6 separate regions of the Homo sapiens genome follow, and regions 1, 3, 4, 5 and 6 are each reported to be linked to region 2. Evidence: microRNA targets listed by miRTarBase, many of them from high-throughput screens and not tested one by one. Region 2 holds a microRNA gene; each other region holds the end of a gene's coding sequence.

Evidence for each region. The annotated mature microRNA hsa-miR-34a-5p reads UGGCAGUGUCUUAGCUGGUUGU and lies in region 2 at 1,647-1,668, opposite strand. An mRNA with a match to its seed (bases 2 to 7 or 8) in the 3' UTR can be bound and repressed. Matches are read on the target gene's strand: a 7mer-m8 pairs with bases 2 to 8, a 7mer-A1 pairs with bases 2 to 7 and ends in A, and an 8mer does both.
Region 1: the mRNA of UBQLN2 is a reported target of hsa-miR-34a-5p. The part of its 3' UTR that is shown has no 7-base or 8-base seed match.
Region 3: the mRNA of BAG6 is a reported target of hsa-miR-34a-5p. The part of its 3' UTR that is shown has no 7-base or 8-base seed match.
Region 4: miRTarBase lists ATG5 as a target of hsa-miR-34a-5p. Seed matches in the 3' UTR shown: 8mer at 3,532-3,539.
Region 5: miRTarBase lists HUWE1 as a target of hsa-miR-34a-5p. The part of its 3' UTR that is shown has no 7-base or 8-base seed match.
Region 6: miRTarBase lists KTN1 as a target of hsa-miR-34a-5p. The part of its 3' UTR that is shown has no 7-base or 8-base seed match.

Annotation. Positions count from the first base shown.
Region 1 is chrX:56,565,463-56,569,559 of GRCh38, reverse strand. It overlaps UBQLN2 (ubiquilin 2), which reads right to left. Exons shown (of 1, transcript NM_013444.4): 1 at 1,692-4,097. The coding sequence ends at 3,812. Among named protein-coding and RNA genes, the nearest start is that of UBQLN2, 3.9 kb to the right of the region's middle.
Region 2 is chr1:9,150,089-9,154,195 of GRCh38, forward strand. It overlaps MIR34A (microRNA 34a), which reads right to left and starts at 1,689; the gene lies at 1,580-1,689. It overlaps MIR34AHG (MIR34A host gene), which reads right to left. Exons shown (of 2, transcript NR_132742.1): 2 at 1-1,747. RefSeq lists a silencer at 1,498-1,734.
Region 3 is chr6:31,635,852-31,639,958 of GRCh38, reverse strand. BAG6 (BAG cochaperone 6) reads left to right here. Exons shown (of 26, transcript NM_001387994.1): 25 at 313-459; 26 at 733-931. The coding sequence ends at 828. PRRC2A (proline rich coiled-coil 2A) reads right to left here. Exons shown (of 31, transcript NM_004638.4): 25 at 3,910-3,992; 26 at 3,540-3,750; 27 at 3,351-3,449; 28 at 3,014-3,226; 29 at 2,823-2,917; 30 at 2,635-2,725; 31 at 2,188-2,513. The coding sequence ends at 2,373. Among named protein-coding and RNA genes, the nearest start is that of MIR6832, 4.1 kb to the right of the region's middle.
Region 4 is chr6:106,182,806-106,186,805 of GRCh38, forward strand. ATG5 (autophagy related 5) reads right to left here. Exons shown (of 8, transcript NM_004849.4): 8 at 1,671-3,871. The coding sequence ends at 3,735. Among named protein-coding and RNA genes, the nearest start is that of PRDM1, 98 kb to the left of the region's middle.
Region 5 is chrX:53,529,769-53,533,867 of GRCh38, forward strand. It overlaps HUWE1 (HECT, UBA and WWE domain containing E3 ubiquitin protein ligase 1), which reads right to left. Exons shown (of 84, transcript NM_031407.7): 84 at 2,328-3,643. The coding sequence ends at 3,541. Among named protein-coding and RNA genes, the nearest start is that of MIR98, 25 kb to the right of the region's middle.
Region 6 is chr14:55,683,327-55,687,430 of GRCh38, reverse strand. It overlaps KTN1 (kinectin 1), which reads right to left. Exons shown (of 44, transcript NM_001079521.2): 44 at 2,852-3,332. The coding sequence ends at 3,328. Among named protein-coding and RNA genes, the nearest start is that of KTN1, 110 kb to the right of the region's middle.

The DNA.
Region 1 (4,097 bases), not on the chromosome of region 2:
GCCTCCCAAAGTACTGAGATTACAGGCATGAGCGAGCCCCTGTGCCTGGCCTCAGTATATTTTTTTAATAATACTCAATTAGGAATATCAAATTTGCCAAATAATTTAATTTCTTTACATATACTAAATTAAGCTGTATGACAAACATTTACATCAGGTCAGTCTGGCTTTGTGGCTAGAGTTATCAGTTCATTTAGGATAGTGTCAAAAGTCTGAATTTGAATCCCTTTTTGAATTATAAGACACAGGCCAAATGGCTTTCCTGACATCTCAACCCTGATCACTAGGCTTGGCCCTAACAGGAATTAGTCAATTTGGTCCTATTTTGACACTGCAGATTAACATAATTTGGAGCAGGCTGTCCTCTCTCAGAGGGCAAGCTTGTCCACACCCAAATACAGGTGTCTCCTGATCCTAGTTTCTCAACTAGCATGGAGATCTCAACTTGATGCAAAAGTCCCCTTTAATGAACCAACAGGTTTTGTTTCCAAGTTGTGTATATGCCCCCTGCCCCTCCCCTCCCACACGAGTAGAGAAAGTATGTATGATATCACGTACCTGAAACAGAGGACAAAAGCAAATGAGGAAAGCTGTCTTGAGGGTGAAGTCATCCTGCTGGGTTTGCCCCTGGCATTAGCTCCCTCCCTACTACCACATCTTGCTGGATCGCAGAGCCATTGGGAGGGGGTGACAACCCAGTAAACAGGGAATGGATACAAAAACACTGTTCCACTCTTGTTGGATGGGGTGACAACCCAGTAAACAGTGAATGGATACAAAATAATTGTTCCACTCTTGTTGGAGGGGGAGGGATAGCAGGTCAGGATATACCCTTCTTGATTCAATGATGAATAAATGGATAAATCTTGGATCAATAGTAGATGAAGAAAACCCAAAACAAAAACAGAGCCTTTAAAAAGAACCTGCAACATAATAGGAGGAAATTACATCATGTAAGAGATGGAGGAAGAACAGTTAAAAGTAATTTTTAAAAGGCCAAAATAAATGAAGTTATAAGCAAAATAATAGTAGACTTAATAAAGTAAAGACGTGGATCTTTTCCAAGAGAAAACAAAATACACTTAAAAATAAACATTTGGCAAAGCTAATAAAATAATTTCCTGTTCCTTGAGTGTTTGAAAGAAACTGATCTGCTAAACTGCCTGAGCCAGGCCTCAGCCAATATCCAGTTTCTACTATGCTATTGATTTCTTGTTATTTTCTATGCCTACAATTTTATATTTATTTCCATATAAAATCATCTGTCATTAAAATTACTGAATTTATTATGACAGACTTTGTGATTATGTCAAATACCTGGCATGATATAGTAATGAAATAATAAATCACCATTTCCTAAGTTGGTGTTCTGAGGAACACTGACAGGCCAAATGGTATTAGGTGTGTTTAAAAGAAAAAAAAAAAGGTGGTTCTGTGCTCAAATAAGTTCGGAAAATGCTGAGTTACACAAAGTTAAATAGTTTTTTTTTTTTTTAATTGAAGAAGCTACCCATTAAAAAAAAATACTAGCCAACATTTATTGCACAATGAGTCTCCAAGAGAGATTAAAGTATACAGCATTTTGCAAATGTATTTCCTTGTCTCCCAGAAGAATATTTTTTTTTCACAAAACACAATTTGGAATTGCTGTAGCAAACACATTCTGGCTAAAATGAGAAACAAGACAAAAATGCCACTGCCACCTTTATTATTTAGCACTGTTATGAAAATGTTTAACCCATGCAGTCAGAAATTATGTTATAAATTTTGAAAAGGAAAACATATAATTATAACATAATTGATAGGATTTCTCACCTGGAAAAACTCAAAAGGATCAAATGAATATCTCTAAAATTAATAGATTTCAATAAATTGCCAATTTAAAATAATCGATGCAAATAAATTCTTCTCCTATATAGCAAAAATGACCACATAGGTAACATATTAAAAGCTCCAATAAGCAGTATCAACGTGTTCCCTGTATGTCTGTATTACCTAGGAACATATTTATTACAAATTATATAGGATTTAAGTAAAACTCTCTTGAAGGATATATAAAGTTTTTCAGAAACAAGGCAACATGTTTCTGGAAAGCAATGCAATTCTGTAGTCCTCACAGTCATATCAATTTAAGAGAATCCCAACCAAATTCTCAATATATTTTTGGGGGAAGAATCTATTAACTGTAAAATTCATCTGGTAAAATAAACATGTCAGAATCGTCAGAATATTGTAAAAAATAAAAAAGATCAAGAGGAGGTCTCACATTAAAAGATACAAAGTCCCATTTCTAACTCATCTACAGGCTGGTGTACTGGTGCCACAATGTTCAATGGAACTAAAGGGAATCCAAACACAGAATAAAGTATATACATGTATGACATTTCATATGTTGGGGGAAAAGGTAAATATGTTAACAACTGGCTAACCCTTTGGGGCAAAAAAGTTAGAATACCTAAATCCATACATCAAGATAATTCCAGACAGGACAAAACATTTTCTAAATAAAACCATATAAGTTAGAGAAATATAGGATAAGATTTATATAATCTCGGGGTGGGATAATCCTCCTAAACACGATCCTAGGGCCAAAAGGCAAAAAGAAAAGATTTATCCATTTTTTAATTTTTTATTTTTTTTAGTCATTTTTAATGCATTTTTCTCTGTGCACAAGAGAAATAACTGATGAAGTCAAAAGACACACTTTCCTTTATACATAGCAGTTAAAAGTAATGCAAACATCACATGACACTTTCAGTGAAAGTTACATTTCCAATTACAAATCAAAATGCATATTAGGGTCTCTTTATGGGAGAAGCTGAGAAGGAAGTCTTAGGTAAAAAGCACTTTCCTGGCATTACTACACTGATCCTTCAGGCTGCACAAAGATTAAGGTCATATACAGTCAATCTGCAAATGTTGACACAATGTTACACTGTAAATTTTCTGTACAATTAAATGTATACTTAGAGATACCAGGATAAACATTTCTACTATATTTTAACTGAACTTGCCTAGCCAACATTTTCACTGAGAAGTTTATCAAAGATGCTGTAAGATTCTACAAAATTGTGAGACATAACTAGCTCCAGAAACATTTCTTGTATTCTTTCTCATTTTGGTTACACATATTACACTCAGATTCTACTGTAATATTTTTAGATGTACAGTGCCAATTGTGCTTACTGTACTGTATACAAATATAGCAAAAAAGATCAATGGTATAAATCTTACAGCATTTTGCTAGCAAAAATACATGCCAAAGTCACAATAAGCAATATCGTACCACAAATTAGAGAGCTTCAAATAATTTGCTTCTGTTTTTAATATCTTCATTCTACATTAAATTACTATCATAGGCTAATGTTTAAAAATGCAAATAAATTGGACATCTGTAGGACAACACTTGTTCACCCAACTGTGAAGGTTGATACCTGTTTCCAAAAATCACAATAAATGCAGAATAAAGAGAAGTGTTTGCATGCAACACTTTTGAGTGAAACAGCATTGATTCCCACCACTCAAAACGGCTAAGGAAGGAAACTAAAGGAAATAAGGAAGGAAGGAAACAAAGAGGGAGGGAGTGGGGAGACAAGAGGAAGGGAAGGTAGGAAAAATAAGCAAAGGAGAAAGGGAGTGAGGGAAGTAGGAGGGAGGGACTCCATCTTAAAATGCATCATATTAGACTTACAACTAGACAGATTTAAAAGAATCAAAATGAAAGTAAAGAACGATTTTGTGTGTGTGTTTAAAGATTTAAGAGCCATTATCAAAAATAAGATACATTTTTTTTCCAGGTACAGAAATGTGATTACGATGGCTGGGAGCCCAGCAGCCTTTCAATGGCTGCATTGATGTCGCCTCCTGTTGCTATTAGGGCCTGCAAGTTTGCTTCACGGTTTAAGAACCCCATTGCGTTGAGCTGTTCCAGTTGTTGCTGAAATCTGACTTCTGGATTCGGCAGCTGTGGAGCATTTGCTCCAGCCAGGGCCTGCACCATTTGCTGAATGAACTGCTGGTTGGGTCCAGATTCTGATGTAGGACTCGTGGTTTCACTAGGTGCAGCGCTGGACACAGTAGGCCCCGTGGGGCCACCA
Region 2 (4,107 bases):
AGTCTATTTGAGGAAGAAAAGGACAATTCCCATAGGGAGGGGGTTTGCTGAAGCAACCAGCTGCCTGGTTTCCTCTCCAGCATTGAGAGGGAGGGAGGGCTGGCTTAACTGGGGGACGGCCTTCTCATCTGGACTGTGTCAAGGCCAAGGTTAGGCTCCAAATTCCAGAAAACCTCTCTGCAGGGTCTTCTTTCAGAGTGGTGAGAATGGAAGCAGGCTCCCTTCCCCTCCAGCACTAGGAAGCCCCGCAATTGGTGAGGTGCAAAGAAAGATGGGCCCAGGCAGGGAGGCGGGAGCAGGGGAGGTGCCCAGGGCAGTGGCTGGAAGGGCAACGGGAGAAGCAGCAGAGGCTGGGGGTGGGGGTCGCAGCAGGTGCTGTCCCTGGCCTGTGTGAAAGGTACTAGAAGGCCCCATCCTTGGTGCCACATGGACCCCAGAGGCTTGTCTTAGTCCATGGGGTCCGAGGTGTAAGACACTTACGTTTGGCGTCACCTCTTAGGCTTGGATGAATTTCAGAAAGTGCTAGACTGGAGAACAGTGGAAAAAATCAGTGGAACAAGATCTGGAGCACTCACTGCTCAATGTCAATGTTAGAGAGCACAACGACACCAATGGGAGGAGGGTGAGGACCAGAGGCTGATTGCATGAGCTCTGTTGGAGTGCAGGACCCACTAACGGGTTATCTCAGGGTTCCTGGAGGCCACGGCTGTGCCTTGTGGTCCAAGACCTGGGGAAGCCACCACTGTGTCTTCCCTCTCCATCCTCCGGTGACTTTGGTCCAATTCCTGTTGCCATGGCAATCAGCCCAGCTGGCCTCACAGTTCACTGGCCTCAAAGTTGGCATCTGTAGGTGAAGCCAGTGGGACCCAGAGAACTTAATTCTTCTCAACTGAGCTGGCTTGGAGGAACTTTTCTCATCAGCCACTGGAGCAGAGAACGTCACCAGCGTCTCACTGACGTCAACATCCTGGGCCTGGCTCTAGCTGAAAAGGAAAATTCTCCCCAAGGCAGACACATCTCCCGAAGCCCACACAGGCACTTTCTATGATTGCACTGGAAATCTGTCTCCTGGGGACAGGGAGCGCGTACGCTCACAGTCAAGTCACAATGTTGAGCAGTCTCCAGGACTCCACGTTCATCTCTAAGAACAGGAGCCGGTGGTTGGGCGCAGATTCTTGAGCCAGATTGCTCGCGTTCAAAACCTGGTCCCTTTTTATTAATTGCATGCTTAGTTACATTTTCTGTTTGTACTTTTGTTTCCTTCTCTGCAAGACGGGGTTAATCACAGACACTTGTACATGATGTAATACACTTACAATACTTAGGACAGGCCTTCCTGCATAGTAAGTGCTCTGCAAACACTGGCTACTATTCTCCCTACGTGCAAACTTCTCCCAGCCAAAAGCCGCCCACACCAAGCCCCTGTGCCTTTTTCCTTCCGCACCCACGAGCAGGCTGCTCCTGGGGCCCTGGAGCTCACTTTCCCAGCCGCCCTCACCACCCACCGTGGCGCAGAAGAGCTTCCGAAGTCCTGGCGTCTCCCACTGGTCTGGGCATCTCTCGCTTCATCTTCCCTCTTGGGCCCCACAACGTGCAGCACTTCTAGGGCAGTATACTTGCTGATTGCTTCCTTACTATTGCTCACAACAACCAGCTAAGACACTGCCAAAGAAACACTCACAGCTGGCCGGTCCACGGCATCCGGAGGGGACTCGGGGGACAGGCCTGTCCTGCCTCTCCCCAGCACCTGTTGATAAGAAGGAAATGTGGGGAGGAAAGAAAGGATGCAGGAGGCCGAGGTGGGAGGATCGCTTCAGGCCAGGAGTTCAAGACCAGCCCAGGCAACTAGCAAGACTCCATCTCTACAAAAAAATTTTAAAAATTAGCCAGGCATGGTGACATGCGTGCCTGTAGTCCTAGCTACTGGAGAGGCCAGGGCAGGAGGATCGCTTGAGCCCAGGGGTTGAGGCTGCAGGGAGCTGTGATTGCGCCAGTCTGGGTGACAGGGTGAGACCCCGTCTCTAAAAATAAAAATTGGGTGATGGCTCACACCTGTAATCCCAGCAATTTTGGAGGCCAAGACAGGAGGATCACTTGAGGCGAGAAGTTCAAAACCAGCCTGGTTAACATAGCCAGACCACCACCTTCAGCAACTGTCTCTACAAAATGAAAATAAAAATAATGAAAGAGAGAGGATGGAGGAGAAGGCTGAGACCAGTAACAGATTCCAAAAGGACTAATTGACAAGGAGAAAAAGAGTCAGCACTTCCCTGGAAGAGAAAAAATTCGAAAAGGACAGTGGTTGAAAAGTCAGCATGTCTGCGTGAAAGGGAAGCAATGAAGTAGCGCCAACTCCTCCCCCGTCCCGGGCACCGTTTAGGGAGAGGATCAGAGTTCTGCCAGAGAATCAGAACCAGAAGGAGATATAGATTAAGTTTATTTCAAGGAATCGGCTTACGTGATTGTGGGGGCTGGCTAGGCAAGTCTGAAATCCAGAGGGCAGGCCAGCAGGCCGGAAGCTCCCCGGAGGAGCTGACACTGCAGTCCCCAGGCAGGATTTCTTCTTCTTCAGGGAAACCTCGGTTCTGCTCTTGAGGCCTTTCAACCGATTGCATGAGGCCCACCCACCTCGCAGAGGAGAACCTTTGACTTACAGCCAGTGATCATCAGTGCTGACCACATGTACAACGCACCTCACAGTAGCACCCAGGCAAGCGTTTGGTTGAATCATGGGTATCACAGCCTCGCTAAATTGACAAGGAAATTGCCCATCACAGGGTTTAAGATCTAGTGCTTTAAGATCTACTGACTTCTTGTTGTTTTGTTGTTGTTGTTTTTATAGAGATGGGTTCTTGCCATGTTGCCCAGGATGGTCTCAAACTCCTGGGCTCAAGTGATCCTTCCGCCTCGGCCTCCCAAAATACTGGGGTTATAGGCATGAACCACTATGCCAGGCCAAGATCTAGTGACTTTGGATACGGACCACCACGGAACAGTTCCTCTTCCATGTGGGTGTGGGGGCATGAAGGACTGTTTTCAGGAGGATCAAAGTCACCTCTACCCCAGCATGGGAAGTCCCAGAAACTTGAGTTCCAGGTAAGGTAGTGCAGAAAAAAGCAGGCTCATGAGCCAGTGCTGTCTCTCTCTGTGCAAGGGGGAAAGAGCCCCTCTGAGGCCTCCACACACAGTCAGCAGGACACAGGACACAGAGGTCAGCCTGTTGTGGCCACTGTGAAATGTCCCGTTGGAGTTGACAGGAGCCTGCTCTGACCTCAGTCCTCCTCCTCCAAACAGGTGACCCTGTAATGCTCTGGTTAAAAAGCAAGCCAGCTGGACTGTGTTATCTTTTAGTGTGGGAAAAATGCTCTTAGGCCGGGCGTGGTGGCTCACACCTGTAATCCCAGTACTTTGGGAGGCTGAGGTGGGTGGATCACTTGAGATCAGGAGTTCGAGATCAGCCTGGTCAACATGGTGAAACGCCATCTCTACTACCAAAAAAAAAAAAAAAATACAAAAATTAGCTAGGCATGGTGGCATGTGCCTGTAGTTCCAGGTACCTGGGAGGCTGAGGCAGGAGAGTTGCTTGAACCTGGGAGGCAGAGGTTGCAGATCACACCAGTGCACTCCAGCCTGGGTGACAGAGCGAGACTCTGTCTTAAAAAAAAAAAAAAAGCTCCTAATATGTCAGATTTTAACCCAAAGGTAAATTCCAGCAGGGCATGCTCATCAGCTAGAGCGGCAGGTCTCGGCTTCACTGTGTAAGCATCGGCTGGGGAGCTTTTGGTAAAATGCAGATTCCCAGGTTCAAACCTAGAAGTTCAGACTTGGCAGCTCTGGGATGATGCCAAAGGTACATCCTGCAGTTGCTGTGTCCCCAGGTCAGCGCAGAGACAAGCAAAAACTCAAAGCTTCCTCCCTCCCTCAACTCCCAGCCAAGACTGGACGGGGCAGGGGACCCCAGAATCCTGAAAACAGATAGCCACATGGAAACAGTGACCACAGCACACTTGAACTTTGTAAGCACAGCAGAAGCGTGTGGGATGGGCTGGCCCATCCAGAGATGGGGTGCAAGAGGCAGGAATCTGGCCTCATGGTGGCTCCTGGCTT
Region 3 (4,107 bases), not on the chromosome of region 2:
CTTAGATCCCATTTTCCTTTAAGGTGGGTTTCCTCTTGTGGATTACCTAGCTCTGAATCCCGGATGGCTTGACCCCTTCTGCCTTTCGTTTTGAAGAGCACGTTCAAGCACATTCACTTTAGTTTTGGCTAGTGCCAAAGAGAATTAGGAAGGCATTTCTGCTGTAAAAACCACATCCTGGACTCTTAATTTCCCCTCTCTCCACTAGCATGGAGACTCAGTGGAGTGGTTGACTCATGGAAAGGGTGAGCCGGATGGTGGCACTGGATCTGACGTTGATCCTCTTTTCCCTCCCAACCCCCTGTCCCCCAGACGATGCAGGGTGAGGGCCCCCAGCTGCTTCTCTCAGAGGCTGTGAGCCGGGCAGCTAAGGCAGCCGGAGCTCGGCCCCTGACGAGCCCCGAGAGCCTGAGCCGGGACCTGGAGGCACCAGAGGTTCAGGAGAGCTACAGGCAGCAGGTGCCACCTTGAAGCAGAATAGGGATGGTCTAGTGGGAGGGGTTGGGCTAGGGTCCCTCTTCCCTGGATCCCTTCAGCGATGAACTGGTCAGCCTGGTGCTACCATTTGTTTTCCCCTTTGGCATCTGGGAAGGCTTGACAGTGCCACCCCGGGCTATTTGACAGTGTGCTTGGGGGGGGAAATGTTAGCTTCTGAGGGATGGCCTTGTGTGCTTGCTGGGATCATGGGGACTTGGCCAGCGTTTCTCCAACCTGCTTACTTTTTCTCTTTAGCTCCGGTCTGATATACAAAAACGACTGCAGGAAGACCCCAACTACAGTCCCCAGCGCTTCCCCAATGCCCAGCGGGCCTTTGCTGATGATCCTTAGCTCTTTGCTCTATGGCCCTTCCTCATCAGGGGACCGTTTCCCCCCTCTTCCTTCACAGTATTTAAGAAATAAAAGTCGGATTTTTCTGGCTGCTTTCTCTCTACATTGTCTCCATTAGGTAGTGTGTCCCTTAATCTTGTGTGAACTTTTTTAAATTAATACTTCCTTGGAACACTGTTGTGTTCTACTCAGCACGCTAAATTGTACAAGCCAGTTTTGATGTTTGTTTTTTTTTTTTTTTGAGACAGAGTATTGCTGTCTCCCAGGCTGGAGTGCAGTGGCCCGATCTCGAGCTCGGCTCACTACAACCTCCACCTCCCGGGTTCAAGTGATTCTCACTCATGCCTCAGCCTCCTGAGTAGCTGGGACTACAGGCGTCCGCCACGACGCCCGGCTAATTTTTGTATTTTTAGTAGAGACAGGGTTTCACCATATTGGCCAGGCTGGTCTCGAACTCCTGACCTTGTGATCCACCCGCCTTGGCCTCCCAAAGTGCTGGAATTACAGGCGTGGGCCACCGCGCCCAGCCTGATGTTTGTATTTTTTGTGCGAAAGCACTTTATATATAAATAAAAAACCTGTATTTTGAGTTGGGAGCATATTCCAGGTGCACACTAGCATAGAGCTCTCAAATTACCCATCAAAAAAAGTTTCTGAGCAGCTGCAGACCTAAGTATAGTCTTTAGCATAACTAGCATGCAGCGTTACCATGTGAAATCCCACTTAGTTTGACAATGCTGGAATTGGTCTATCCAATTCAAAGAGCCCCTTAAGTGTGCTCCAACATTGAGGCCTTAACAGAGATTTCCCCTTAGTTCATCATAAAGAACTGAAGTCCCATGGCTGCAAATTCTTTGCTAGTCCCTTTGAGATGCAGTTGAAGTCCCTTCTAAACCCCCCCATCCCCTACCTTGGCTAGTTTAGTGCTCTTATCAACTAAGCATGGCATAAGCTTAGAAAATTCCAGCTAGACCTCTTGGAACATGAGCTCACGGACATTTAACAGGCCTGCTGGAGAGTCCATGTGAAGACACTGGTTGATAACCCAGTAATGTTACAGATGTCCCACCAAGGCCCTAGATATGCAAAGGAAGCCATATTGGGACCAGCCCAGGTGTCAGCTGCAGACTGATAACCAGTTGACCTCGCTCACTGGCACAAAAAAGCAGATTTATCCAGCTGAGCTCAGCCCAAATTCCAGACTCACAAAAATTTAAAGATCCAATACGATGGTCATGTTTTTAGTTTCAACAGCTCACTGGAATAAGTAATGAATATTTCCCTGACTGAAACTACAGATCACTCAGCACCATGCTTTAAGACAATGCAAACAACTCATCCCCCAAATCATTGTAGAAGTTTTTTTTTTTAAATCCTTTTATTACTCTTTTTTAACAAACAGCCCCAGGGACAGGGGACCAGGGGAAGGGGGAGGAGGGGAAGTGAGGCCCCAGCCCCAGAACCCCTCCCCGCCCACCCCTTTCCCCCTTATATATTTATAATCTATATACAAGCCCCGGGGGTAGGGGGCAAGAGGAACTCCCTCAGCGGGGTGGGGGCAACCCAGGCTCCTTGTCCCCTCGGGACCCAGGCTCCTCTGCCCGTCGGGAGGGCCCTTCTCGAGGTGGCGGCCCTGTCCGCTCCCAAGGCTTAGGTATCCAGCGCAGGGCATCTGGTGGGGAGGCCTAGGGGACAGGCATGTGTTAAACAGTGAGTCACAGTGAGAGGTCAGCGATGAGACGGAAGGACAGGAAATCAGGTGGCAACTCGAATTTAGAGTTGGGGCCACAAGGGTTTCTCCTTCACCTGCTGGTAAAGGTCGACGCGCTGGGTGCGGAAGACTCCACTGTAGGTGGAAGGCGTGGCCTTGAGACGGGAATTGAGGCCAGAGAAGGACCTAAGGGAAGAAGGGCGTCTAAGGCAAGCCTAGGATCCAGACCCTGGTTCCAAAGTAAGGAAGCACTTGGAAAGTCCACATCCCTATTCCGTTTCACCTTCCAGTTGGGGGAGTCCGTGATGATCCAGGTCCCCCAAGGTTGCTGCTCAGTTTTTGATAATCCTGGAACGGCTTTAGTTCCACTGGATGCAGCTGAGGGGAAAAAAATCATGAGCTGCCTACCTTGAAATACAGAATCCCTACTCCCAAGTCTTGGCGCTCCCTAGCCCCTCAGTTCCTGTACCTTACCTCTGCTCGCCCCAAGCTAGCGGGGAAGGGCCTGGCAGGTGAAGGCAGCACCCGAGTAGCAGGAGCAGGTGGGGGCCGCACAGCCAGGCTGGGGGGCTGCAGAGCAGGGCCCACAGGTAACAGAGAAAGGGGAGGTGGGGCAGGAGGTGGTGCTGGCGGCAGGGAGCCAAAGTTCACCACAGGCAGCTGTGAGTCTACCATGGGTAGAAGCATCTGTAACAAGAAATTTGGGTGTGCATGTTGGGGGCAGGGAGGAATGTCAGAAAACCAGGGAAAATCAAAGCCAGCAACTGGACAGAGAAATCAAATGAAGGGGAAGTGTGAAGATACAATATACCTGCTGGGCAGGAGCCCCTGAAGGGAGAAAGCCACTTTGGCCACCAGGCTGCAGAGGAGTAGAATAAAAATCCGAAGGGGATGGCAGATCCTGGCGTACCTGTCGGGAAACAGGGAGAAATATATCAACCCCCACAAAATCATTCTCCCTACCCTATCCCCCAATATCTAATACCTGCCCCCCTCTTACCTGAAGCAACGATGTGTCAGGCAAAGGACTGGGGCAGAAAGCCGGAGAGTAGAGGAAGGAAGGTGGAGGGTAGAGAACTCCTCCAGCCGGCAACTTCCCCAGCTCTGTAGCTTGCATTGTGGAGAAATCCAGAAACTGGCCCTTGAGAGCTAACCCAGAGAGCAGTGCTGAGGGAGGGGCTGGGCCGGGGGGTAGGTATAGGGGCTGTGATCTGAAAATAAATTGTGGGGAGAAAAGCTGTTAGGAAGCCAGAGTCCTAGCAATGCCTTAAGTCCACTAGCTTCTAGTACCCTAGAACTGTGTCTTCCCCTTCCCTCTCCCCGAAACACATCTCCAAGTACTTCTGTGATCCACAGGCATCGAGTCTTACCTGTAAGGGTGCAGTGAGGGTGTCCCAGGGCGGAAGCCTCCACTGTTTGGATGTAATTGAGAGTCCATGGCTCCCCCAGAGATCTGCAGGAGAGGAGCACGGTTGAAACAGCTTTAGTATCTGTGGTCAAGAAAAAAGATCACCATCCCACCCATAGAAGCAAAAAGTAGGGAGAAAAATGATGTGACAAAGTGGTAT
Region 4 (4,000 bases), not on the chromosome of region 2:
ATTCTTACCAGAAAAATATAACACTCATTATAAAGTTATTAAGTAATCCTTTTTTCCACACTTGCTAAACACCAACTGTGTGCTATATACTCCACTGAGAACTGGGGGAAAAAATGGAAAACGCCTGGTTGTACTTTATTTATCCTTGAGATGTGGAGGTGAGAAAGCTACAGAGGGAAAGCCAAACTAATCACTTTCATAGGAGTCAACTTATACGTCAAAGCGTACTGACATCCCTCAATCTTCAAATTTGTCTTTATCTCACTATATATCATTCTAATACAGTAACATAGTTAATAAAAATGATTTTGCACTTAAAAACCTAAGTACTTAAAGAGCTACCTAAAGGACCTAAAAATTGAGTCTTTCACTCCATGGTTACTATATTGTTCCTACTAGATTTTACAGTAGTACTATATCTGCTCGTAAGCATGAAGAATCAAATTTATAATTCATGATTGATAATGTGAAAGATGCTTTTGTCAAATAAAGCTACATAGTAAATAAATTTTTATAATGTCCAAGTTTTCGCTTAATCTCAAATGATCTGAAAAGAGGCATGCCTCTCTTCTTTCCTCTCTACCATCACTGTAATTTTTAATATTTTCAGACCAGGAGATAAATATATTTAGGAAACAAGAGGATGACAGAACTCAGGCAAGTAGGTATTTTGATGGACTCCATCCATTGATCGACAATGAATAGGTTCAAATATTCCTAAATATGGTCACACTTGATTTTCCTATCATACCCCAAGGTTTTACATTTGTATTTCAACCATGCTGGCACATGTAACAGGAAACCCAACTTACCTCAGACCTAAATATCAATAGTATGATAAATAAAAGTGAGACTGTCATTCTCTGGCATGACCCACATAAACCAAATTTCTAAAAACTGAAGAAAAGGTTACCTCAAATAGCCTATTAAAAAATACTGTAGAAAGATAACCATTAAAAACTACTGTCACACAATGTCAAAGCTTATATATTGTTTTCTCAGATAATGATCAACTCCTAGCTTGTTTCCAGTGTTAAATGTAACAAGACTAGTACACTAAACGAATTCACCTCACACTCAGATTGGAATACGGTTTATACCTCATCATCCTATAAAGACTGATAAGTCAACTTAAACTATAAACAAGTTACTTCGGGTCCCTAAATCTGTAAGAAAATCCTGGTGCTTATCAGTTCAACTCCCCAAACTGAAACGAAGAATAAACACTCTTAATGTGAACAATCATATTCAGACCAGCCTCTTGTGCAAAAATATAAGTCAGTGGATTTTTTTATCCTTACATAACTCAAATATTGCTATTTTTTTCTGCCTTTATTAAAATGGCAATTAGAGTTGAATTCCATGGTCATAATTTAGGTCATCCGAATGAAAATCAACATTATAAAGGACAATGACTTACTTTAATCTGAATTTACTCGTTCCTAGTTAACAATGCCAATATTTAAAAATGTATTTGTATTTTCCTAGGAGGTCACTATTTACTATTAGTCAAATAGGCATATTGGGGGTCTTCTCCAATTTTCTTTTATATTCTCTTCTATATCCCTCCATCCTATTTCTCCAAGAAACTTTTATGACAGTTTGTGACTAAGGAAATTTTAATGATTTTATCAACAGGTAACTTGTTTTAAATAAAGACGGACACAACATTTATTTAATTTTTTAATAAACCATAAAATTTAAATATTCAAATGAAAAGAAACAAAAATAGATTATTTAAGCCAGCATGAATTTCTGGTTTTACTCTTCCTCTAGGGCATTGTAGGCTTGACTTACCTGGGATTAGAGTAATAAAGCTATGATGCTGGTACAATAATGAATGAGGAAGTAAAAATGGGCAATGTCTTCATAAAATTTACTTTCAAATCTAGATCAGAAGTTCACTCAAGCCTACTGCAAAGGCCTGACACTGGTTTTGTCTGTATAAAACTACTCTGGCTTTTTACCACACTTTCTTCATCACAGCTTAGTGTTCCCTGCATTCTGATCCTTTTGCTCACTAAAGCTCACTTCAATCTGTCAAAACATCAAGGGGGAAAATCCCCAAAATGAACCGACGAATAAACACTCTTAATGTGAACAATCATATTCAGACCAGCCTCTTGTGCAAAAATACAAGTCAGTGGATTTTTTATCCTTACATAACTCAAATATTGCTATTTTTTTCCTGCCTTTACTAAAATGGCACTTTCGTTTACATCAACCAATTATTTTCTACTTGCTTCTAAGTTTCTGAGATTGTATGCTGTACTGGCTATTCTTTTTGATTAAGCTTTACAATTTCCATTCCAGAATATCTGGTCTTTGACCAACTTTATCTAATTTTGTGAAGAAATGTGCTATTAATCAGTGAAAATCGCAAAAGGAAAAAGAAAAGGAAGCAATGAACAATAGTAGAATCTCACTTCAGCATTTGTATAATTTTTTATAAGAAAAACATTCATTTTTATTATGGGATCTAAAACCATGATCGTGTCTGATACTGTAAGCCTTTTAGCGTACTCAAATGGGTCAACATTCAATATGGACAGCCAGCTAGCTCACAAGAAATGAAATGTAATGCACAAATATGTTTGACTGGTAAAATCCCAGAGGCTTGGTAATAAAGTGCAGCAAACTTTCCTTATATTGAATAAGAACTCCAGTAACCTCTGGATATTTTTGGTAAAAATTAAAGAAAAGGTACTGCAGTCAAGAGACAGGTAATCTTTAAACTTCAAAAGACTGGCTGCCAGGGACCACAGTGAAAAATTAGACCTGGAGCCAATGAAAAACACTAGCTTGGAAGGAATGGGTTTTTCCAAAAATGCAAAATTAGCATTTACAGATGCTTAGGATACTATGATTTGACAGGCTTACAGTGATAAAACAACAAAGATGAACAGTTACAATATTTATACGTGTAGTGTGTAAAGAACACAGGTTTTTTAATTGGCAGCAAGAAATTCTATGACAGCTTCTGAGACAAGTAATCCTATGCCCTATATCCACCCCATGCCAATGACGACCAGTCAAAATGGTAACACAGAGTAAAAAGTGATCTACTGTATGTGAGTCAGAAAGTACTTGAAAAGTGACAAAACTGTATGTTATTAAATGACAAAACATATTTAGAGGCTTTATTTAAAAATCTCTCACTGTTCATTATCAAAGTTACAAGATTGCATACCAATAGACAGACTGTAAACATAGGAAATTTTCGTTAAGGAAAGATGGGTTTACTGTAATTCAATCTTTTACAAAAAATTACTTGCAAGTTATTGATAACAGAATTTCTCTTTTACTTTCTTAATTCTCTTGAAAATTAAACCAATGTTTCCACTTTCATGAGCTAAAGTTCAACCATGGTCACCTTAGGAAATACCCCTGTTTATTTGTTAATCAGAAATACAAATCGAGTGGCACATACTTCCATTTTCTTCTTAGGCCAAAGGTTTCAGCTTCATTATATTTTACAGAAGACCTTCAGTGGTCCGGTAAGTCTTTCATGTCACAGCTGAGGTTTAATGATGGCAGTGGAGGAAAGCAGAGGTGATGCAAAGTAAGACCAGCCCAGTTGCCTTATCTGACATGGAATCTTTTTCCTGTCTGGCTTGCAGCAGCGAAGTGTTTCTGGTCAGGTTGCCTCCACCAAACCTGATTGAAGCAAAAGGGTGACATGCTCTGATAAATCCCATTTAAGGATGATTCTGTTCAGGCAAATAGTTGATCCTTCAATCTGTTGGCTGTGGGATGATACTAATATGAAGAAAATTATCCGGGTAGCTCAGATGTTCACTCAGCCACTGCAGAGGTGTTTCCAACATTGGCTCAATTCCATGAATCATCACTTGATTCTTTTTTTCCCCATCTATTCCAAGAAAGAAACCCAACAACAATAAAAGTCAAAACAGTTGAAGAAAAAATAATCTGGTGCCTTTTGAGAATCCTTAGTGCATTAAATGGATTTTAAACATGTTTTGTCCCCTGAACAGGAAAT
Region 5 (4,099 bases), not on the chromosome of region 2:
CCCAGCTACTTGGGAGGCTGAGGCAGGAGAATCTTTTGAACCTGGGAGGTGGAGGTTGCAGTGAGCCGATCATGCGCCACCACACTCCTGCCTGGGTGACAAAGCAAGACTCTGACTCGAAAAAAAAAAGAGAGAAAACATCACCAATGTAGTTGAAGCCCTGTGTAACGTGCCTCTTCCCAGCCACATCCCCTCTGTCTACCCCTGCATTGTCCCATAACTTATCCTCAACATTGTGCAAGATTTTATCATCCTCATGGTTTTTCATACTCTTCATACATGTTGCATGATTTTGCAACTTTTGAGCAGGTCTTATATGTATGTACCCTCCTGAAACTTTTTCTTTTTTTGAGATAGGGTCTCACTTGCTACCCAGGCTAGAGTGCAGCGGTATGATCTCAGCTCACTGCAGCCTTGACCTCTCTCCTAGGATCAAGTGATACTCCCGCCTCAGCTTCCCAAGTAGCTGGGACTACAGGCACGCACCACCACGCCCAGCCTGAAACTTTATCATTGAGATTGTGCATGTGATGTATGCAATTGATATTTTTACTACTGTGTAGGATTCCATTGTAGGAATTTGTCACAATTCATTTATGTTAGGTAATAAGTTTATGTGAATAGTTTGTTCATTATAGCCAAGTTTCTTGCTAGACTGTTTTAAGTTCCAATACTTTTTTTTTTTTAGACGGGGTCTCGCTGTCTCCCAGGCCGGAGTGCAATGGCGTGATCATAGCTCATTGCAGCCTCGATTTTTGGGGCTCAAGCGATCATCCCACCTCAGCTTCCCGAGTAGCTGGGACTACAGGTGTGTGCCACCATGCCTAGATTAAAAAAAAATTTCAGTAGAGAGGTCTTGCTATGTTGCCCAGGCTGGTCTTGAATTCCTGAGCTCAAGCAATCCTCCCACCTTGGCCTCTGAAAGCCTTGGGATTCCAAGCATGAGCCACCATGCCCTGCTCCAATAACTTTTGACTCCGTTAGCAAATGGTTTAAGTTATACCTTTTGTTTCCTGTTTTACTGAAATAGAAAACTGCAGAATAGCAGAACAGCACTAATAGTGATAATTAGCCACCTTATCTTTCAAGTGTGATGTTGGCTGTTGGTCTGAAACTACCTTATCAAGCTAGCTTTACCTTTAAAGGTTGCCAGGAATGGTTCTTGAATGTGAACAAATGCCTTGCCATCTACGGACAAAGATTTCTCAACTGACAATGAGGCGATTAATATTACACTACACATATCCCAGGGGCAAATCACACTTGATCATGCTCTATTTTTGTAGTATCCCACTGAATGAGATTTGCTTCCATTTCCCATAGGATTATTCCATCTGTACTCCCAGCTTCCACATCCAACCCCCAACCTCCAACCCAGGAACCCCCCCTTTACTTTCAAATTTAAATTACCTGCCAGACCTTTATTTCAAAGAACCAGTTAATCTTACTGCTTATTGACAAATTCTACTCTCTGCTTATTCTTTTTTTTTTTTTGAGACCGAGTCTCATTCGGTCACCCAGGCTGGAGTGCAATGGCGTGATCTCAGCTCACTGCAACCTTCGCCTCCCGGGTTCAAGCGATTCTCCTGCTTCAGCCTCCCAAAGTGCTGGGATTACAGGCGTGAGTCACGGAACCTGGCTGGGACTGGCGCGGTGGCTAGGACTGCCAGTAGCTGGGACTGCAGGCGCACGCCAGCACGCCTGGCTAATTTTTGTATTTTCAGTAGAGACGGGGTTTTGCCATTTTGGCCAGGCTGGTCTTGAACTCCTTATCTCAGGTGACCCACCCGCCTCAGCCTCCCAAGGTGCTGGGATTACAGGCGTGAGCCACCGCACCTGGTGTATCTCTTCCATTTTAAAGTCCTGCTGGACTCTAAGCAACTAAACTCCTCCTGCCTTGAATTATATGACCCCTCTCTGCTTAACCTCAACTCCTGCTCAGCTTTAGGCTGCAATCCAAGTGCACCGACGATGGAAAGCTTTCCCTGACTCTCCAGGCTAGGTCAGGCACTTCTATGTGCACTGAGACCCCTTTCTTCATCTGTCACAAAACTAATCACTGTCTTCGCCTCCCTACTAGAAGCTCAGTAACACGGATGGGGCAATTCCTCTGCCTTCTCAGTCATCAAAGCAGGGCCAGGCACAAAAGAGTGGGAACACTAAAAAAGGGGAAAATGGCTAGCAGCCTTGGCTCCAGGACCAGGGGATCAGGTTAAAGACACACCCTTTCTTTCCTAGACCCACACTTTGGGACAAGGTCAAGGGGACAATCTGTTCAGAGGTAGCACCCCAGGAAAATGAGAAAAACCACACAAGGCAAGCACCACTTGGGGTTATTTTTTCTAACTAAATTTTTATTAAATTATTTTTTCTTTGAAGGCTGGAACCATCGAAGTCCTTAGATCAGCTTTAAGCACTGGATGGAGTAAAAACCACAAGGGACTACAAGGTGATCTGTGAACAGACTGGCAGACAGATGACGAGAGAGGGAGTGACGACAACAAAAATAGACAAACAAAAATAATGGTCTTCTGGCGACCTAGTTAAATTACTCGCTTATTAAAATTTATTAGAAATAAACAAACATTAATGAAATAAAAATCTAAAACTGAGCCCCAGACTCAAGACTACTAGAAAGGCTCACCAAGTAAAACCCTCGGTTGGGTCAAGTGAGCTCTCTGAATGTTTTGTACAACCTGCTGCAGTTTGTTCCCCTTGAGCAAGGTGATGCTTTGTCCTGGGCTGCAATCTCTAACACCATCACCATCCCCAAGTGCAGCTCCCATTCTAAAAAAAAAAAACAGATGCCCCCACCCCCAATTCCTGGTGAACTGCTCATCTCTCCTGACTGCAGAAACTGACTCTGAAGGAGGAAGTTGCACCAGTGGTGGAGGCAGGTGGGCAAGCGGGTAGGGCAGGGATGGTTTCCTGGAGAATCCATCTTTTCTCCAGATGCCTAGCATGTGCTTAAGAGTTTTTTGTTTTTTTTTTTAAGTTTGAAAAAAACTCCATTGTGAAAAGTGAGTTATGAAGAGTGCTCTTTATTTGAAACCTCCACAACACAGACGCCAATCTTGTCTCGCATTGAATCATTAGCTGTGCACATCAACACATTCCAAGCACAAATTAAGAAATGCAAACAGAACAAAAAAATATATATATATATAATTTTTTCCCCTATCCAAAGGTTTCAAGTCTCAATGCAGCAAATCCTTCTGAACACAGAATCTGAGGAGCACACTGTTCAAACAGTTGGGACAGACAGGTCCCTGCAAAGGCTACTGCCTTTTTAAAACACATGGGGTGGGGATCATGGACGGCATGGAAAGGGGAGAGAAGGTGAGGAAACAGGCGGCGGGGAGAGAATGAGAAGAGGAACAGGTATGCGCTGGGGAAGATGGGGCAGCTGGGACACACACGGTGAGTTGGTGGATTTCATTTATTGGTTTTTGACAATTTCTTTCTGGTTCTTTTTTTAACTCCCCCCTCCCCAGGTCCAACAATGGTAAAAAAAACCCCACGGAGTTGGGCAGGGCCTTATTAGGCCAGCCCAAAGCCTTCAGAGCACTCCTGGATAGCCAACAGTAGCATGTGGCGGAGCTTCTCAAAGCTCTCATAGGCAGGCAGATCCAGCTGATTAAAACTAAGGAAAGAAGAAAGATCAGTTTGTGGTGAGGGATGACAGATAACCAAATCTGTGTGTTCCCATGGTGCCCACCAGCCCCTCCCCTCCCTGAAGAAACCAACTCCCTGCTTCTTGATGACTCCCAATCTTGTCTCAGCCCAGTATGTCCCCCTTTATCTGGCTCCCAAACTGGCCATCAGGCACCAAAACCAAAAATCTGACCCTGTCACTCCTCCTTAAACACCCTGGCCTCACTCGCCCATAGGCTAAAGTGCAAACTTGAAGGTGGTTTTCAGAGTCACTGGTAATCGGACCTCTGCTGAGCTCTTTAGACTTTTGCTCCCTGCAACTCCTCCTTGCTCCAGTCACGCTGGCCCTGGAATACACCATGCTCTCTTGTGGTGCTGTTTACCTGACAGTGTCTCCCCAGCCCCCACTGTGTCTAGCACATCTCATCTCAAACATCACCTCCAT
Region 6 (4,104 bases), not on the chromosome of region 2:
TATGTTGGCTGCCTTGTAGAACTCTGCCAACAAATATGAAATGGCCAGATTTTCTAGGAAAATAAAAATGACAAAAATGTAGTCAAGAAAAAAAAATCTACCACCCAGGTTGCAGAACAGCCTAACAAGTTAGTGTCCTTTCCCAACCATAGTCTTCAACTCTGCTTTGCGGAGTCTCCCTCTTCTGCACATCCTAAGCAGACCCAAAAGCTGTTCTGTAACTTCGGTTAATACAAGTCCAGTCCAACCCAGTGTAATAACCCATCTCCCATCTGCCCCCTGGCTTTAATAATGTCAACAAGGAATCGTCTTTTCTTTCATTCTTCCTTTGCCCTTCCTTTTCTGGGGACCCAAATGAATGAGGTCAAGGGACAAACGTGTCTTAACAAACGAGGGTATAACTGCAGCCTCCTTCTGGTGGTAACTGCTTCTCCCTACATCTCATCCTGGGCAGATTCCACAAGTGGCAGGTGCCCATATGCAGTCTCTGTCCCGGGATGCAAGACACATGAAAAATCTAGCTCTAACTCTGTGAGCAACACAGCTATTGCCCACAGCTATACACCACATAGCCTCTTGCAGCTAGAGTGAAACGCATGCAAGGCAGCTCAAGCCTCGATGCTTTACACAATATCACTACCTCCAGGAAATGAATTAGTTTTCCTACGCCAAACCCAAGGGTATGGCCGGCTTCACAGGCATCCCCACTCCTCCCTTCCACGTCTCTCTCTTCTCTTTTGGGGGATCAAGAAGTCTGCCCCTGACTATTCTTTATTCTCTTCCTGTAAGCTTCCTTCAATGTGTAATTTTCTTGGGGCTTTCTGCCTCAGTTGACTGTGATGGTGGCAAGGAGAGCCATTTGAGTTTGATGACACAGAATTCCTTCTCTTCTGATGCTCCCTTCCTCTCCTGGAGATAGGTTTGTAATATACTGGGAGAAGGTGGACAGTCGGGGATTGAGGCAAGGAGGCTAGTTTGGCCTTTAATCACTCAGTGCAACTAAGGAGCTGCGAATATTTAACTGTAAGGGGAATGAACGTAGAGCACAGAATTATCTTTGCATATCTGAACAATCACTGAGAGTGTGATAAGATTTTCCTATGTGATTCTGTAGTGAGAAAGGACAGATTGATGCAAGTATCAGGGACACAACTTTTAATAATGTCATAGAAGAACCATTAACAGTTACAGCTGTCAAGTTAGAAAAGGCAATGTTATGAACTTCCTGCTACTTCAGAGGCAAAAGATGAATGACTGTAAGGTTGAGATGTTGAGGGAAGGGATACAAACTGACAGGAGACTGGACTGTGTCCCCAGAGTCCTTTGAAATTTATTTTTTTTAATTCAAACATACAGAAAGGTTGAAAAAATAATAGAATTACACAATTATTCTGAGGAACTTAGCTCTGAAGAGAGAAAGAGTAGCAAGAAGACACTGTAACTTGGAAGGCAGAATTTGTTCGTTACAGGTGGCAGCAACATGAGCACCTTTAGGCAATGGGAAAGGACAAAGGAAAGAGGCTGATGATGTAGTATCTGGCCTTCAGATCAATTTCCCAAGGATTTGCTGAAAGCAGCAAAGGTAGAAAAAGGTAGCTTGAATCCCCACACCAGTCCTCACTGGCCATAAGAAGTCACTTCAGTTGATTTCTATATGCCTTAGAAATACTATATGTGCAGTGAAGTGAAAAGGTAAGGAAGCACCACTTTAGATAATCTTCAACCTCCAAAAATGAATTTTATCCATTCACTCATTTAAATAGTTGAGCACAATGAAGTATCAGGCACTGTCTCAGGCTACAGATACAGCAAAGAACCAAAGAGATGTTTCTTGTCCTTGTGGAGCTTACTTACTGGTGGGAACAAGGAGAGTAGAAATCAAGTATGACAGACAATAAGGCAGAATAGGGAGGGCAGAAGGATAGCGGACAGTCAGGAAAGACTTAATTAGAAGGGTGACATTTAAGCAGATTTCAACATAGTGAAGGAGCAAGCCAAAGCTGACACACCAGAGGAGAGTTCCAAGCCCAGAGAACAGAAAATGCAGAGGCCCCATGACAGAAGCATGACTGTTATGTGCACAAAAATAACAAGATGACCACAGTGCAGCCTAATGGGTACTTTAGTACTCAATGGCACAAGATATTTCTCAGTGGTTATTTAGCATCTGAAGTGTTTTTAACAAATTATTAAAAAAACTTTCATTGGCTGGGCACAGTGGCTCACACCGGTAATCCGAGCACTTTGGGATGGGTGGATCACTTGAGGTCAGCAGTTCGAGACCAGCCTGGCCAACAAGGTGAAAAACTCTTTCTACTAAAAATACAAAAATTAGCCAGGCATGGCGGCAGGCGCCTGTAATCCCAGCTACATGAGAATTGCTTGAACCGGGAGGTGGAGGTTGCAGTAAGCCCAGATAGTGCCAATGCACTCCTGCGTGGACAACAGAGTGAGACTCTGTATCAAAAAAACAGTAACAACAACAACAACAACAAAAAAGATAACACATGTAAACTGTGTAACCGTGCCTGAAAAAGAAAACTAACAGTTAATTATTATTACTTCAAAAAAAAATAGTAATGGTAAAAATAGAGCTCCTCTACCTGAAGTGTGGGTGTTTAGTCTGAAATCCTAAATGCTTGCTCTGTCCTTTCTGAAACCCCAGCACTCCTGGGGCACTTTACATTGGACCAAACTGAAGAGGACCCAGAGCATCAGTTAGAAAGGTTACAGAGGCTACATAAACCTATCTTGTTGAATGGTTGCCAATTAATAGCTGTATTCTAAATTACAATGATCTGTACTACTAATGAAATCTGTTAAAGCTCAATAAAAATTAGAACAAGTCAAGTTTGAATAATAAGCATCCTTTTATTTGCTGACGCCATTACAAAAACCGATTACATTAGCAACAAAAAAGTGTTTTCTTGAGTTGAAGTCAGAGGCAGTTACTTCCCAAAATGTTAAGTAAAACAGTGTACAACATCAGTATTAAAATGTTAAATTTTACATTGTCTTTACCACTTTGATCTTCTGAACAATTTTATTGAGCAAAATAAGATAAAAGATTACATGTTTATCTTCAGGAATGTAAAGGTCTAATTATTCAAACAGTTTTTATTATAAAACTAAACTCTGAAGGTGTCTACAGAGTTGGCTTTTTTTTTTCCTTCTTTAAATCAGTAGTCTAACAAGGATTAGAAAAGACAAAACTCTGTTCAGTGTTTCTGACAAAGTAGAAAGGGTGAAAACATAAATAAGGCTTTAATTTGGCAAAATATAATACAATGCCTTTTTTATCCTCAAATGAACAGTTTCCCAATTACTTCACTCTGTAAAAGATCAGAAAGAATGAATTTCACTTTAAAACAAAGCAACAGAAGGCAATCAGAAGACATTTGTCAAACACCAAAAGTACATATTCCATTTGATCTAGCATGGCCCTTTCAAATAGACTCAAAGCAATTCACACTAATGGTAATCAAACTGAGAAAAATCTCAGGATTCAAAGGAAACAAGCTTTTAGGTAGATACTTTTAAATGTGAGCCAAATTCTGTTAGAAAACATTTAAAACAACAACACTGGTAATCCATTTTTATTAGTCCTACTCAAGAGAATGTAAAGCTAAAGTGAGTGAGTAGCACTGAAAAGGGGTTGAATACAACCTTACCCCAGTGAATAAATAATTTAAAAGAGCAGAAATAGATTTTTTTTTTTTTTTTTAGGTCATATGAAGTTTTCTAAGTCAGATAAGATGACTAAAGAAATTAAACTTCAAAAGCCATTAGAGAGACTAAGAGGACTTAACAAAACACAACATGTTAAATTTTGCCTTGGATTCTGGTTTGGGGAAAATAGTTAAAAAGCTATTTTGGGTACAATTGACAAAATGTGAATAAACGTTTAATATTGGATAGTACATAACTACTATTTTGTCTTTTTGGTTGTAATAATGGTACCACTGATTGGTAAAACAATGTCTTGTTTTCGGAGATGTGTGCTAAAGTACTTAGAGATAAAATGTCATAATGACTAAAAGTTACTTTCAATTAGTTTAACAACAAAATATGTAGACATATAGAAAGAGATGAAGCAGGTGGAGG